Regions from separate parts of the Homo sapiens genome. Here region 1 is linked to region 2. The links come from fine-mapping of genetic effects on gene expression. Tissue or cell type: whole blood. Region 2 holds a variant in brackets; the other region holds the start of a gene. All regions are shown on one strand. Distances are from middle to middle.

What was found. PIP is the estimated chance that this variant, and not a neighbour inherited with it, causes the effect.
Region 1: it holds the start of ADD1, and the variant in region 2 is fine-mapped to the expression of ADD1 in whole blood (TOPMed, PIP above 0.99).

What each region holds. Positions count from the first base shown.
Region 1 is chr4:2,839,313-2,847,487 of GRCh38, forward strand. ADD1 (adducin 1) reads left to right here and starts at 4,532. Exons shown (of 16, transcript NM_001354761.2): 1 at 4,532-4,712. SH3BP2 (SH3 domain binding protein 2) reads left to right here. Exons shown (of 13, transcript NM_001122681.2): 13 at 1-1,784. RefSeq lists an enhancer at 3,304-3,815 and silencers at 3,944-3,993, 4,094-4,473, 4,534-4,723, 4,844-4,993.
Region 2 is chr4:2,924,927-2,933,101 of GRCh38, forward strand. It overlaps ADD1 (adducin 1), which reads left to right. Exons shown (of 16, transcript NM_001354761.2): 15 at 1,088-1,186; 16 at 3,245-5,136. The coding sequence ends at 3,597. SLC75A1 (solute carrier family 75 member 1) reads right to left here. Exons shown (of 13, transcript NM_001146069.2): 5 at 7,674-7,832; 6 at 7,425-7,586; 7 at 7,119-7,227; 8 at 6,899-7,010; 9 at 6,629-6,737; 10 at 6,449-6,539; 11 at 6,301-6,348; 12 at 6,135-6,224; 13 at 5,641-6,027. The coding sequence ends at 5,912. Among named protein-coding and RNA genes, the nearest start is that of SLC75A1, 5.8 kb to the right of the region's middle. RefSeq lists enhancers at 1,224-1,739, 6,880-6,949, 7,370-7,419, 8,140-8,175. The variant T/C (reference allele first, on the strand shown) is at 4,590.

The sequences.
Region 1 (8,175 bases), 86 kb before region 2:
CCCACACCACCAAGCCCAGCTAATTTTTTGTATTTTTAAGTAGAGACGGGTTTCATCATGTTATGCAGGCTGCTCTCAAACTCTTGAGCTCAAGCGATCTGCTGGCCTCAGCCTCCCAAAGTTGGGATTATAGGCGTGAGCTACCAGATTTTTTCTTATTAATCTAATAATTCTTTGTATAGTCTTGATATTATCCATAATGTGTATTGCAAATATCTTCTCTAACTCTGGCTTGACTGTTTATGGTGTCCTTTTTTTTTGGGGGGGGTTTTTTGAGACAAGGTCTTGCTCTGTCACCCAGGCTGGAGTGTTATGGCACAATCTTGGCTTATTGCAGCCTCAATTCCTAGGCTTAAACAGTCCTCCCACCTCAGCCTCCTGAGTAGCCGGAACTACAGTCACGCACTTCCATGTCCAGATAATTTTTTTTTTTTTTTTAGAGATAGGATCTTACTATGCCCCAGCTGGTCTCAAACTCCTAGACTCAATGAGCCTCCCATCTTGACCTCCCAAAGTGCTGGGAGTACAGGCATGAGCCACTGTGCATGCCAGTTCTTATTTTTAATGCAGTTGAATTGATCAGTGTTTTCATTTTGGTTAGTGCTTTTTGTGGCTTAAGAAATTCTTTCCAGGCTGGGTACAGTGGCTCACACCTGTAATGCCAGCACTTTGGGGGCAGAGGCAGGAGGATTACTTGAGCTCAGGAGTTTGAGACCAACCTGGACAACATGGCGAAACACCATCTCTACAAAAAATACAAAAATTAGCTGGACATGGTGGTGCGTGCCTGTAGTCCCAGCTACTCAGGTGGCTGGGGTGAGAGGATTGCTTGAGCCCAGAAGGTCAAGGCTGCAGTGAGCTGTGATTGTGCCACTGCACTTCAGCCTGTGAGACAGAGTGAGACCCTATCTCAAAAAAAACCAAAAAAAAAAAAAAAAAAAAGAAAACCACTGAAATTATTTCCACTCCAAGGTCATGAAGATAGTCTCTTAGATTATATTCTGAAATCCTTATAAATGTAAATTTCATATTTAGGCCTTTAATTCACCTAGATTTGGTTTTTTGCATATGGTGTGAGGTAAGGATTCACTTTCATTTTTTTCTCTCCATAGGGTTACACACCTGTCCTATCATTGTTTGTAATCTAACTTTCTGCGCCCATCTGCAATGCCACCTCTGTCATATGTCCACATATGACATATGTAGATCTGTTGTTGGATTCTTTCCTCTGTTCCATTAGTCTGTCTGTTCTTGTGCCAATATCAAGCTGTCTTCATTATTATCAATTATGTATTGAGATCTGATAAAGTAAGTCTTTTCCACCTTATTTTTCTTCTTTGAGAGTGTCTTGACTATTCTGGCTCTTTGTATTTTCATGTAAGGTTTTTCTCCCATATAAGTTTTAAAATCAGCTTGTCAATTCCAACAACAATGATGCACTTGATAGTTTGGGAATTTATTATAGCTATCAATCAGTTTTGGGAAAATTGACGTCTTTACAATATTGAGTTTTCTGATTCATGAACATGGTTTACCTCTCTTTCCATTTGGGTCTTCTTTAAGGTTTACCAATAGGATTTTATATTTTTGTCCATTGTGGTCTTGCTTATCTTAAGTTTGATTTGTAAATATTTTATGTTTCTTTTAGTCTATTGTAAATTGTGTATTTTTAATTTCATTTTTTTTTTTGTTAATAGCATATAAAACACACCTTGTCTTTTAACTGGAGCATTTTGTCCATTGTGTATTTAATGTAATTAAATCTACCATCTTATTTTATGCTACATATTGTCTCACTTGTGTTTGTGTTTTCTTCCTCCCTTTTCTCTCCTTTTCCCCTTCTTTGAGATTGAGCAACTTAAAACAAATCATTTCATTTCCCCCCTTCTCCTAGTTAGAAAGTTAAACACTCTCTATTCTTACTGAAGTCTAGAGTTAACTAATAAATACTTTTATCCTCCTCCTGGACAACATAAGGACCTCAGGTGACTTTCATTGGTCTCCCTCATTACTTGATATTATTGTTGTATATATCTAATTCTAACTCAATGTATTTTAAAACTCTCACCTAAGACCGTATTTGTTTTTTTGTTTTTTTTTTTTTGGAGGCAGAGTCTCTGTCACCCAGGCTGGAGTGCAGTGGCGCCATCTTGGCTCATTGCAACCTCCATCTCCTGGGTTCAAGCAATTCTTGTGCCTCAGCCTCCTGAGTAGCTGGAATTACAGGTGCCTGCCACCAGACCCAGCTAATTTCTTGTATTTTTAGTAGAGACAGTGTTCTGCCATGTTGTCCATGTTGATCTCTTAACTCCTGAGCTCAGGCAATCCTCCCGCCTTGGCCTCCCAAATTGCTAGGATTACAGGCAAGAGCCACCACGCCTGGACCTTTTTACTTTTTTGTAGTTGGAAAAGGAAGGAATATTTTAATAGCTTTAAAATTGTTTTATTATGATAAAATTTTCATATTATAAAGTTTATCATTTTAATTATTTTAAAGTGTACAGTTCTGTGGCTTTGCGAATATTCATATTATTGTTCAGTCATCACCACCATCCATCTCCAGAACTTTTTCATCACCCCAAGCTTAAACTCTGTACCCATTAAACACTAAATCCCCATTCCTCCAGCCCTTTGCAACCACCATTCTACCTCCTGTCTCTCTGAATTTGACTACTCTAGACACCTCATACAAGTGGAATCATACATTTATCTTTTTGTGATTGGGTTATTTCACATAGCATGTCTTCAGTGTTCATCCATGTTGTAGCATGCGTCAGAATTTCCTTTCTTTTGGCCAGGCATCGTGGTTTATGGGTTTATGCCTGTAATCCCAGCACTTTGGGAGGCTGAGTTTGGATTTGGGAAGATTGCTTGAGCCTAGGAGTTTGAGACCAGCCCTGGCAACATAGTGAGATCCCGTCTCTACAAAAAATAACAAAAATTAGCCAGGCATGTTGGCACGTGCTGGTAGTCCCAGCTACTTGGGAGGCTGAGGCAGGAGGATCCCTTGAGCCTAGGAGGTCAAGGCTGCAGTGAGCCATGGTTGCAACACTGCACTGCAGCCTGGGCGACAGAGACCCTGACTCCAAAAAAAAAAAAAAAAAAAAAAAAAAGGCACAAAACCCCAATAAATAGAATTTCCTTCTCTGCATAATGCTGCTATGAACATGGTACAAATAGCTGTTTTCATTTCTTTGGGGTATATATCCAGAAGTGGAATTGCTGGATTATGTGGTAATTATGTTTAATTTTTTGAGGAACCACTCTACGGTTTTCCACAGCAGCCACACCATTTTACATTCCCGTCAGCGATGCACAAAGGGTTCCAATTTCTCCGCATCTTTGCCAACACTTATTTTCTTTTTTTCCTCTTCTTCCTCCTTCTCCCCCCTTGAAACTTTTTGTTTTCTTCTCGTTTTTGTAGAGAACAGGGTCTCCTTATGTTGTCCAGTCAAGTCTGCCAACTCCTGGGCTCAGGCTATCCTCCTGTTTCTGCCTCCCTAAGTGCTGGGATTTTAGGCTGAAGCCACTGCGCCCAACTCCCTGCTTCTTCAACTGCCATCCTAATGAATGTTAAGTGGTATCCCACAGTGGTTTTGATTTGCGTTTCCCTAGTGATTAACTATGGGAAGCAGAAGTGAATGAGACAGAATTGTGATCTTGTCAGAAAAATCGTCTTGGAAAAGCCAACGTCCAACAGAAATGGTTAGAACAGGGGTCGCTGGCTTCCATCCAGACAGTATCCCTGACCCTTGTTGGGGCAATGTCACAGAGGCTCCTGCTGAGCAGGGAGGTCTGGATTCCACACTCTTCTGCCACTGCCCAGCTCTGGACCTAAGCTTTCTATGGGTGTCAAGAGGACAAGCAGCCGTGCCCATTTGTCTCGCTGCTTGTTTTTTTGGGTGTCAGATGCGCCAGCAGGAGGGACAGTGTGCGGGAAGGTGCTGGTCTGAGGCTGGTCCTGCCAAAGCCCCGCAGGCTCACTCCCTGGTCGTGCGGAGGTGGCTGGTGCTCGCTGGTCTCCTCAGCACCCGCAGGCCGGGCCCGGGGGCCAGGCAGTTGTCCTCTGTGGAGCCTTATCGGGGCCCACAGGCCCTGCTGCCTTGACCCCACCCGGGCCCCAAAACTCGGCCTGGGGACTGCACAAGGCGGGGCTACGCGGGGCAGGGCCCGTCTGCTGGGGGAGTGCGCTGGGCGGCGGCGGGAGGGCAGGGTCCCTGGGCTCCGACAGCCCCTCCGGCGGAGGTCAATCACAATGAAACCGTGTCCAGCGGACCCGGCAGGGGCTCGCCGCAGTCTACCTGGCCACCGTGAAGCCATGACCTGGCGCCCGAAGCTGCCGGCCGGGGTGTACTCCGCGCGGGACCCTGGGCCTCCGCAGGCCCCGGCGGGGTCGCCCCGAGGCGGGCCTGGCGAGTCCAATCGCCCTGCCCGCAGGGGACCCGCCCCTCATGGGTCCCGCCAATCGCAGGGTACGTTGCTCGGCAGTGCTGCGCGGCTTGGCCTATGGGACGGCGCGTTGTTGGGCTGCAGCGCCGCAGGCCGCACCCAGGTCGGGCGGTGGGGGCGAGCGGAGGGGCTGAGGGGCGGAGAGGCCTGGCGGGCCGCTGCTGCGGGCCAGGGGACGGGGGCGGAGCCGGAGCCGGAGCCGACGGGCGGTGGCCGCACTGGGACCCCGGAATCCCGCGCGCTGCCCACGATTCGCTTCTGAGGTGAGGCTAGCTAGCGGGGGCGGCGGGGGCCCGGTTCGGGCTGAGGCGGCGGCGGGGGCGCGGGGAACTGGGCCGCGGTTGCGGCGGGCGGGGGCCGCGGGGCCTGCGGCGGCCCGGGCAGCCTCGGGGGCGGGGAGGCCGCTGCGGCGCCGAGGGCGTCTTGGAGGGGTCCCCGCGGGGCCTTCGGCCTGGGCCGAGCCGGGGAGCGAGGGCGCCGCAGATCTTTCATCGGGATAGGACCCCGGGGACTAGGCTTTTCCCGGGCCGCTCGTTCCTGGCCGGCTTGTGGGCTGCAGGGGTGGGGGCGGAGGAGGACGACCCTGGCTGGACGCTGGTCAGCATCCTGCTTGTGAGACCGGTTCCGCGGTCCGCAGCGCTGGTGGCTGCAAGGTTTGTGTACGGACGCATCTGTCGGCTCTCGTATTTAAAAACGACGGCTTCTGCCAAAAGAGAAAAGCCATATCTGCCGACGGACGCTCGAGAGATAATCGTGGAACTTTATCAGCGATGGGGCTGTTGGTCACCTTTGCCCTCCCTCTCTTTTCTTTTTTCTTAATCTTTTATTTTCGTTTTTTGGGAGATGTCAGAGGGCCTTTCCCTGTTAGGATGACTTTTATCTTTGCTCTTGTAATGGCTCAAGATAGTTGGGAGGTAATTTGCATTCACTTTATGCATACCCACCTTGAAAAACGTATTTTGGTTCGCCTGAAACTGTTGTTGGTTTGAGCATAATTTATGTTTAGAAAGACAAAAAGCAATTGTCATATCTCCAAAGACCAAAGACATAGCTGATAGCTGTATGCATTACTGGTAAGTTAAAGAAAGATTTTTTGTGTGAAAAATTGACTGAGATCTTAATGGGGATAGGAAATAGAATGCTGATAGGTCGACTGTGTCTATGAGTAGAGGCGCCTAGTGAAAACAAGCTTGGAGTGGATGAGTAGGAGTTCAACAGGCACCAGAGAGAGGAGGGCATTTCAGGCAGAGGGTGTGAATTGTATGAAAGTGAGTTTGTAAACTTTGGAGCCTTGAATGGACAAAGGCCCGCGATGATACCTTTTTTTTTTGAGACGGAGTCTCGCTCTGTCGCCAGGCTGGAGTACAGTGGCGCGATCTCCAGTCACTGCAATCTCCGCCTCCCAGGTTCAAGCAATTCTCCTACCTCAGCCTCCCGAGTAGCTGGGACTACAGGCGCGCGCCACCACGCCCAGCTAATTTTTGTATTTTTAGTAGAGACGGGGTTTCACCATGTTGGCCAGGATGGTCTCAGTCTCTTGACCTCGTGATCCGTCCGCCTAGGCCTCCAAAAGTGCTGGGATTACAGGCGTGAGCCACCGCGCCTGGCCTACGTTAAAATTTTAATATACTCCTTTGATTTTGACAGTGGAGAAAACTAGAATAGTAAAGTTGTCTTTTCAGGAAGTGGATGATTTGGGCAGTCAAAACTGCTTTTCAGAGTTTCGATGTGGTTTACAATGGTATGGACAGCTGGTATGATTTGTTAGTTTTCTACTTGTGGTGTCTTTAGGTTTTAAAGTTTCGGAGAGTCGCTGAGTGATGTGAGTCTAAACTCTAGCCAGTCCCCGAATTGTGAGATAGTTTTCCTTCTAAAATATACTTCGTACAAGCTGGTCATTTTTCCCCTTAATTCTTTTGATGTTATCTGATATACTGAGAAGGTTTTGTTTGGTGTTCAGTTTTGTGTTACTGATTTTGCCATAAAAACTGTTTATTTACATGATTTTTAGTTTTTAGTTCTTATAGTCTTTGAATTGAATAAGAAAAGTAAATACTGAAATGCTTTGAAAGATAACAAAATATTTACTTATTGCTTGAAACTTAGAGTTAGATTGACTGCCCTTCCTTTCTTTCCTTCCATGTTTACCTCTTAACATATACACATATGTAGAGAGAATAGTATAAACCCCTTTTCTCAACCAGTTTCAACAGTCAATCTTGCTTCATCATATCCCCGCAGTCCTAGATATCCTTTAACCGTTAAATAGTTCAATATGTATATCTTAAAGACTTAAACAAAAGGTAAACATGAGTACCACTATCACAGAAAATGAATAATTCCTTAATACTTTCAAATATCCAGCCAGTGTTAAAATTGTCAGAATTCTCATTTTTTTTCTTAACAATTTCAATCGATCCACATGCTATCTATACAGTGTGACTCATTTTAATTGATAGTTTCCCCTCCATATTTAGTTTTCTCTTGTAATTTATTTATGGATGAAACCTGGTAGTTTGTCATGTGGAGTTATGCACAGTCTCAATTTTACTCTGTGGCATAGTTTCACAGAATTTACTGAAAACTGGTGGTTAGATCTAAAGGTATGATCAGATTCAGCTTTACTTTTGTCAAGCAAACTTCTTAGGTAAGTAGGCAGAAATGATTAGTAGTCTTTGTTCGCAGCCCTTGATTGTCAGTGCCTACAGTCATTTCAGCAAGCATTGAATATATTGATATTTGAATTCTATAACTTCTTTTATTAAATAGAATATTTTTATAAAGATAATTTTTCATGCCTCCACTATTTGGTTATCTTGAGGTATCTCTTACAGAAAAGGGAGGATAAATGCTTAATTCTTCTCCATTATTTACTAGGTTTCACATAATGAATTGTTTCGCTAATATCCTTCAAAAGTAGCCAATGAAGCTGGGCATGCTAGGATGGGCCTGTAATCGTAGCTGCTCCTGAGGCTAAGATGGTACGAACCTGTGAGCCTGGGAGGTCGAGGCTACAGTGAGCCATGATCACTTCACTGCACTACTCTGTCTCTTTAAAAAAAAAAAAAAAAAAAAGCCGAGCGTGGTGGCTCACACCTGTAATCCCAGCACTTTGGGAGGCCGAGGCGGGCGGATCATGAGGTCAGGAGATCGAGACCATCCTGGCTAACATGGTGAAATCCCGTCTCTACTAAAAACGCAAAAAATTAGCTGGGCGTGGTGGCGGATGCCTGTAGTCCCAGCTACTCGGGAGGCTGAGGCAGGAGAATGGCGTGAACCCGGGAGGCGGAGCTTGCAGTGAGTGGAGATCGCTCCGTTGCACTGTAGCCTGGGCGACACGGAGCGAGACTCCGTCTCAAAAAAACAAAAACAAAAACAAAAAACAAGCTAGGTGCGGTCGCTCACAATCCCGGCACTTTGGGAGGCTGAGGCAGGTGGATCGCCTGAGGTCAGGAGTTTGAGACCAGCCTGGACAACAGTGAAACCTCATCTCTACTAAAAATACAAAAATTAGCTGGGCATGGTGGTGCATGCCTGTAATCCCCACTACTAGGGAGGCTGAGGCAGGAGAATCGCTTGAACCCAGGAGGCGGAGGTCGCAGTGCCATTGCACTCCATTCTGGGCAACAAAAGCGAAACTCCGTCTCAAAAAAAAAAAGGAAGTAAGACTAGGATTCTACTCAACCTTCTCATTTTTATATACCTGTATCTACTTTTCTTCTAAGC
Region 2 (8,175 bases):
ATTGTTTTTAAAAACAAGTCAAACAAGATATGTGGAGTTTCCCCCCGATGTGTGAGGCTCCTTCAGCAGGGCTGTGATGGCAGCTGAGTGGATGGGGACAGGCTCTGGCCGTGCTCTGTGATCACAGAGCTGTCAGCAGGAGAACCCACAGGAGGTCTGATCTGGCCCTTGGCATGGGCTGAGGGGAGAATGTGCCACAGGTAAAATGCAGGCTGGCTGCCAGAGGTCAGCACCTTTTCCCGGTTGAGGCTGTATGCTCACTCAGCTAGGTGGTATGGCGGCCTTTTTATGGACACCTGGCTTCTGGAAGGTAGCTGCCAACGTGGTACTTGGGGAGGCGAGCCAGCTGTTAGGGTGGGAGCAGAGGCCCTGGGAGCTCAGAAGGATGATGATAGCTGCTGGTTCAAAATACGGACCTGCTGATCCTAAGCTATTAATCTTAAACTTCTGAAATAAAGACAGAGATGGAAGGAGTTAGAATAGTGCTGGTCCATATTTTCCCCGAAATGAGAAGTAGACTTGGAATCCTTTTCTATATCCAGGATCCTAGTTCCTGCATTTTTTCCTCTGGTTCTTATTAGCATTTTTCACTTTAAAAAGTAAAAATACGTATTACAGTTGCCAAGTTTAAATTATTGGGATAAAATGCCCTACCACAGAATTAAAACCAAAATAATGCTCATGTGATGTCCCTTAAGGTGGTGAGTGGGTTCAGGACCCTCAGCCACCTGCTCAGCAGGGAGAAGGCAGGGAGGGAGGGGTCCCTACTCGCACAGGACAGCGGGGGACAGGCCAGGGCATACCATTCGAGTCCATCACAGAAGTGGCTCTGGCAGACTCTCTTTGGAATAAGAATAGAAATAAGTTTTGTATCTGAAGTTGGTTAAGTTTCTCTGAAATTCGCATCAGTCAACACCCAGGTCACAGCTTCCTTTATCCTCTCTTGGAGAGGATCAGGGAAAGGGTTGAGAGAGCCCTGCCTTCTCAGAGGGCGGCCGAGCGGGCTGCCCCATCTGCCATGGAGGCAGGTACAGGCTCATGGCGTGGCGTCCACAGCTCCTACCATATCCTTCTTGCTTCTCTGCAGAGAATCTGGACGAGGCTAGAGAACAGAAAGAAAAGAGTCCTCCAGACCAGCCTGCGGTCCCCCACCCGCCTCCCAGCACTCCCATCAAGCTGGAGGAAGGTGAGCTCTGGGTGGCAGCGGCCGCCACTGTGGGAGGGTGCACGGCTCGTGCGCGCTGTGGCGGAATGTGGCGGGAGTCGTGTTAACAGCAACACGGAAGTGTGTGCTTGCATCAGCGCCAGGACGTGACACCTTTCTCCTCCTATATTGCTTCTGTCCTGGGTAACTCCAGGCAAAACAGATTTGTATGTGAGCTGTGACCAGGTAGGAAGGCCGGCCTCGGGGGTCGGAACCCACCATGGTTGCTGGTGTCCACGTTGCCCATTGCTCGCACACTCCTCGTGCCGTGTTGTCATGCAGATGCCACCTTCGGAGGTGCCCTCCGCTGTGTGAGCCACACGCCGGCTGCCTCTCAGCCACCGTGTGTCTGTGGTGTGTGATCCCGGGTGTCTGTCCCTCGGTCTCGTACATCCATGTCTCTCGTGAAGCCCGTGGCCCTGCCTTTCTTCTTCTGTAACCTGATGGCTGTGACTGAATGCATAGATTCTCTCCTTGTGCTTTTTTCTCCCTGTGGCTGCGTCACAAGCAGGAGACGGATGCGCTAGAGAGTACCTGTTACCCTAGTAAGTACCGTGCTGCCTCCGCTCTCCACCGGTGCCCTGCGCTTTGCCTCATTCTCCTGCTTCTTTGTTGTTTATTAAGTTTTGTTTTCTGTTTATTTAAAATAAAAACAGAAGCCCCCCTTTTTTGTACCCAGTCCCTTGGAGGCCTTCCTGGAAGTGGTTCAGTCACCTGAGTGCTGTGCTGCCTTCAGCGGCAGCGGGTACCTCCACGCACCTAGGTGCCATGGAGCACTCTGGGCCTCAGGAGTTCCTACCTCCAGCCTTTGAGGGTCTCTTTGGATTGCTTGGTGGGAGGGTTTTGCCACACTGGATCAGATGTAAGTGCAGCCTCGGTTCAGACAGGGTGGGGTTCTGCCACCTGCCGTGTGGGGTCAGATTGCCTTGGACCTTTGCTGAAGCTGGTCCAAAGGAGGTGGGCAGAGGAGCGGATATTGGACCCTCGTAAAGCAGTGTGATGTTCACTCAGATGATGGCAGCTCTCCAGAGCGAGTGCCCTGGGGCAGCCTCCGTCCTAGCATCAGCCACACCATGCCCAGCAGAGCGGGCCCCATCTCCTCAGGGGGAGCGGCGCCTGTGTGCCCATAGCCCTTTCCCGGTTCTCATGAAGCGTGGCCTGGAATTAGCCTGGGGCAGCTGGCAGGGTGGGGGTGCTTCCAGCTTCCCAAAGGTAAAGCACTGAGAGTTTGGGGCCTGGGCCTCCTGTGCTGCTCCTAACCACTCAGCTGACTCCCCTGGCCCTGATGTGTGGCTTGATTTTTAAACACTAAACAGCTTGTGGTGCCTAACCTGTCAGTTGCTGGTAACTTTGTAGGCCGTTTACGAATGGACAGAGCGGGTGCCCGGGTAAGTGCAAGGAAGGCGCCCCCAGGCTGTGTCCTCAGGGCCGCTGTGCTCCTTCACAGATGGCCACTCCTGATGCTGGGTGGAGTTTTTGCCCCCACTCCTTGCCTTACAGGCCATCTCTTTCCTTTTAATTAACTTCCAGCCTAAACGGCTTTGTTCTTTTGGATGTTGACGTCACACAACGTGCTGTGGGAGTTATGCACGATTTTCTACTGGCTGTTTTGGGGGAGACCAGGTGTTGTAGACCCAAATTTAGACTTAATTTCAGTACTACTAGTACATGCCCTTAGGGTGACAGGGCAGACTTCTCGTCACATAATGAAAGCGGGACGTCGCTCCTTTAGTCGTCCTCAGCTTGTGCTGCAGTCTGTCTTTCCGGCGGGGGGACCCAGGCCTGGGACGGAGTCTGGTGTTGTCAGCACACTGCCCACCAGAAGGAGCTAAAAACTACCCCGAGACTGAGTCTGTATTTTATGATATTAGCTCCATCCAGCCGTACAGTAGAGTAGACCATATTTTAAGTTTCTTGTCTTGGTAAAAATCTGTAGAGTAAAATAAAATGGCAGTTTCGTGTGTGGGGCTCCCCCATCTCAAGCTGCCCTTTGAGATCTGGGCAGGAACCCTTAATCCCATCTCTCACCTCACCCACTAGACCTTGTGCCGGAGCCGACTACTGGAGATGACAGTGATGCTGCCACCTTTAAGCCAACTCTCCCCGATCTGTCCCCTGATGAACCTTCAGAAGCACTCGGCTTCCCAATGTTAGAGAAGGAGGAGGAAGCCCATAGACCCCCAAGCCCCACTGAGGCCCCTACTGAGGCCAGCCCCGAGCCAGCCCCAGACCCAGCCCCGGTGGCTGAAGAGGCTGCCCCCTCAGCTGTCGAGGAGGGGGCCGCCGCGGACCCTGGCAGCGATGGGTCTCCAGGCAAGTCCCCGTCCAAAAAGAAGAAGAAGTTCCGTACCCCGTCCTTTCTGAAGAAGAGCAAGAAGAAGAGTGACTCCTGAAAGCCCTGCGCTAACACTGTCCTGTCCGGAGCGACCCTGGCTCTGCCAGCGTCCCCGGCCACGTCTGTGCTCTGTCCTTGTGTAATGGAATGCAAAAAAGCCAAGCCCTCCGCCTAGAGGTCCCCTCACGTGACCAGCCCCGTGTAGCCCCGGGCTGACCCAGTGTGTGCTCAGCAGCCCCACCCCACCCTGCCCCTTGTCCTCTCAGAGCCTCAGCTTCTGGGGGAGACATGCTCTCCCCACAGGGGGGAGGCACTAAGTCATGGTCCTGGCTGGAAGGTACTGAAGGCTTCTGCAGCTTTGGCTGCACGTCACCCTCCTGAGCCTCACCTTTCCTGCCGTCCCTCCTGTTGTGAAATCACCACATTCTGTCTCTGCTTGGCTTCCCCTCCACCCTAAAGTCTCAGGTGACGGACTCAGACTCCTGGCTTCATGTGGCATTCTCTCTGCTCAGTGATCTCACTTAAATCTATATACAAAGCCTTGGTCCCGTGAAAACACTCGTGTGCCCACCAGCGGCCTTGAAGAGGCAGGTCTGGGCCAGATGCTGGGCAGGAAACCCCAGCGGCAGATGGGCCTGTGTGCACCCAACGTGATGCTATGCATGTCTGACCGACGATCCCTCGACCAGAATCAGATTCAGGAGCTCAGTTTCTTTTTCACTTGGGTCTCTGGATTCCTGTCATAGGGAAGGTATATCAGGAGGGGAAGAGGCCTTTCTAGAATTTTCTTTGAGCAGGTTTACAATTTAGCTTACATTTTTCGACTGTGAACGTGAATAGGCTGCTTTTTGCTTTCTTCTTTCCAGACCCCACAGTAGAGCACTTTTCACTTATTTGGGGGAGGCTTCAGGGGACTGTTCTCACCTTAACTCAGCCAGAAAGATGCCCTAGTTGTGATCAAAGGTAACTCGAGGTGGAGGGTAGCCCTGGGGCCCCTCGACATCACCGTCATTGATGGAGCCTGAACCGTGTGCTCCTCGGCAGATGCTG[T/C]TGTTGTTACTTCCCTCCAAGAGGCTGGAAAAGGGCTCAGAGCTGCTGAGCAGGAACCGGAGGGTGACCCATTTCAGGAGGTGCCGGTACCAGCCTGACTAGGTACAGGCAAGCTTGTGTGGGCCCAACAGGCCCTTGGTAGAGCTGGTGCCAGATGTGGGCTCAGATCCTGGGCATGATGGGCCGAGCCACCTCGGATCCCACTGATTGGCCAGCCGAGCGAGAACCAGGCTGCTGCATGGCACTGACCGCCGCTTCCAGCTTCCTCTGAGCCGCAGGGCCTGCTACGCGGGCAAGCGTGCTGCCTCTCTTCTGTGTCGTTTTGTTGCCAAGGCAGAATGAAAAGTCCTTAACCGTGGACTCTTCCTTTATCCCCTCCTTTACCCCACATATGCAATGACTTTTAATTTTCACTTTTGTAGTTTAATCCTTTGTATTACAACATGAAATATAGTTGCATATATGGACACCGACTTGGGAGGACAGGTCCTGAATGTCCTTTCTCCAGTGTAACATGTTTTACTCACAAATAAAATTCTTTCAGCAAGTTCCTTGTCTAAATCTGGGAAGCAGTTTTATATTTTAATTTCTTTGTTCCCATGTTTGTCTCGTGCTGAAAAGAGACCTCCTAATGTTCATGTCTTGATAAAATGTCACCTGCAGCCACGCGTGCGGCAGGACGTGCCACCCAGCACTCCTGGTGTCCCTCTCCACGGGAACTCAGGGTGTCCAGGGAACTGCTGGCCTGTCCTTGTCCCCATGGTCCCAGTCTCACTGTCACTGTGTGCTCATGTTTGATGGGGAGGGCTCTGTGCTGGGGACATCCTGCCAGGGTGCGGGGCACACTGCCAGATACCACCTGGCCAGGGCTGACCCCAGCCTTGGAGGAGCCTGCCTGAGTGAGTCCCCAGGCTGCCACTGTGCAGAGGGGGAAACTGAGGGTCTCAAAGAGCCTTGGACCCTTCCGGTCAGTGGAGCCATTCATTCAGCTCCAGCTGCCTTTCCTGGTGTGGGTAGAAGCACGGCTATATATGGCGAAAGGCACTTGGTATAAAACAAACAGGTGCTTTATTTCATCATCAGAAACCTGGTGCATAGTTTAAAAAACAAACAGAAGCCCTGACAGCCTTGGAGTGCTGCAGCTCGGAGTCACTGAAGGAGTAAGTAAGTCTGGAGGAGCTGCCTGAGCTTCCTGCTTAGGGGCCGGCCCCCACCCACAGGGTCTCCCTGGACTGGCGGGGGGTGGGGGTCAGGCAGTGGGCAGGGGCCTGACCTAGGCTCCCACTCTGCCTGGTGCCCACAGCCTGGGCACAGTGGCTCAGCTACTCAGCCTTGAGCGTCTGTGCCGGGTAACTCAGCTTCTGCAGGAGGAAGAAGGGGAGCAAAAAGAGCCCGGACCACGTGGTGAAGCAGGCCTGGGCCCCGGCCAGCCAGTACACTGCGGAGAGACGGTGGCGTCACCCAGTCCCCGAGGGGGCTGGCACTTGGGAGGCGAGGGCAGGTGCTTGGCCCCCAGCCTGCCCCAGCACCATCCCGCGCCCTCACCTGAAGCGGCCACCAGGGGCCCCGCGGCCCTGGCCAGAGCACCTAGGCTGCGCAGTGTACCCATGACCGTGCCCTTCTGCCCTGGTGAGCCTGTGGGAAGAGGCACAGTCAGGCACCACTGCCCTTCTCCCGCTCAGGTGGCTTCGGCCGAGGGAAGGGGGCTCACCATAGCCAGCGACCACGGAGGACAGGCAGGGCACCACAACGGCGGCGGCTGGTGGGAGACATCGAGGAGGTGCCCGTCAGCCCAGGGGAGGGTGCATCACCCAGCCCCTGCTGCCCATCGGATCCCCTGCCAGGGCAGGGCCACTCACCAAAGGAGTAGAGCAGCAGCCCCAGGCCCAGCACGGGCAGAGAACGTCCCCAGCCGATGAGGAGGAAGGCGGGCACCAGCAGCAGGAGGGCCTGCAGGTGGGCACGGCAGCCTCAGCACAGCCCGTGCCCTGCAGGACTCAGGGGACTGCCTGCCACCCGCTTTGGAGGGAGCCCCCTACCCGCTTCACGGCAGCAACTTCCCCGCCAGGGTGGATCCGCCGGGCATAGGCACCCTGGATGGTGGCCATGGTGAGGCCGATGAGGAAAAACATCTTCCCCTGCTGTAGGCTGGGAGCGGGTGTGTTAGTGCAGGGCACCCGGGGCAGGGCCACCCAGGGCAGGGCCAGGGCGAGAGTGGCTGCCAAGGCTTCCTGGGGATGGGGGTTGCTTCCCTGAAGCAGGGGCGTTATTTCAGGGAGACAGCAGGCCGTCGCCAGATGGGGACCCACCTACTGAACTGGAAGCGCTGGTGTGTGAGGAAGCTCAGCGTGTACTCCAGGCCCGAGAACAGGAAGAGGTAGAGGAAGTAGACTAGGCCCAGGCGGCGCAGGCTGCTGAGCCCTGGGGAGAGGTGGCGCGTGCTGAGAAGGCGACCACAGCAGGGAAGGGCGCCGCCCGGGGAAGCCCAGGGGAGAGCAGGCTCCACGCTTGGGTTGGTCGAGTCCTTACTGTCTCCAGAGGGTGGGTCCTGGCCACGAGCGACAGCCGAGAAGCGCAGCAGGGCCAGGGGGCTGAGCAGATCAGCCGCATCACGGAACCCCAGGGCGATAGAGGGCGCCTGTGGGGATGGCATTGGAGAGCCTGCAGGAGCGGCTGCTGGCCTGGCAACCCACGGACTGTGGCCTCAAGGGTCCCAACACCAAGAGAGCGGCCCAGCCTCCCTGGCATCTGGGGCTGGCACACAGGGGCACTTTACATCGCTATGGAATCAAGCCTCCAGCCCCTAGGCCTGTGGGTCCCAGACCACAGCCCTACCCGTTTCTCCAGGGGCAGCGTCTCTGGCAGGAAGCAGAAGATGAACAGCAGGTCGGAGGCTGCGAAGAGCAGGGCAAACCAGGGTGCCATTTCCAGGGGCAGGGAGGCTCCGAGCATAGGGCCCAGGGTGAAGCCCAGTGAGAAGGCCACCCCAATGACCGCCTAGGGAAAAGACCACCCGAGCTGCACAGGGAGACCCAGGCCCAGAAGTCACCACCAGGACCCCAAAGGCCCAGCCTGTGCACTTACCATGCCTTGACTGCGGGCCAGAGGCGAGCCCAGGTCAGCAACGATGGCCGTGGAGAGGCTGACGTTCCCTTTGCTGATGCCCCCAATCAGCCTGGAGGCCAGGAAGGCCGCAAAGCTCCGAGAGGTGGCCCAGACTGCATATGAGGTGGCCACACCCATCTGCCCAGGGGCAGGGGCCAAGAGGCAGGGGCGGTCGCTTAAGGCCAGGAGTGGCTCAGAGTAGGGCTTGGCAACCCAGACAACACCCCTCAACCCTGCCCTATTTCGAAGCATCTGAGGGCCACTTGCGTTCTCAGTGCCTTCCTAGGGGCCAGGAGCAGCTCCTTGAAAGCCTGGCTCTGGAACAGGAGCCACTGGTCCCCCGAGAACCCCCTCCAGGATGCGATGAGGGCCAACCAGTGGCCATGAGGGGCCCACAGCCACCTCCCTCTCCCCACCTAACCCCATGGGGCTACTGGCTGGGTGGGAGGAGGCTTCCCCATGGGCACCCAGGCCCAGGAAC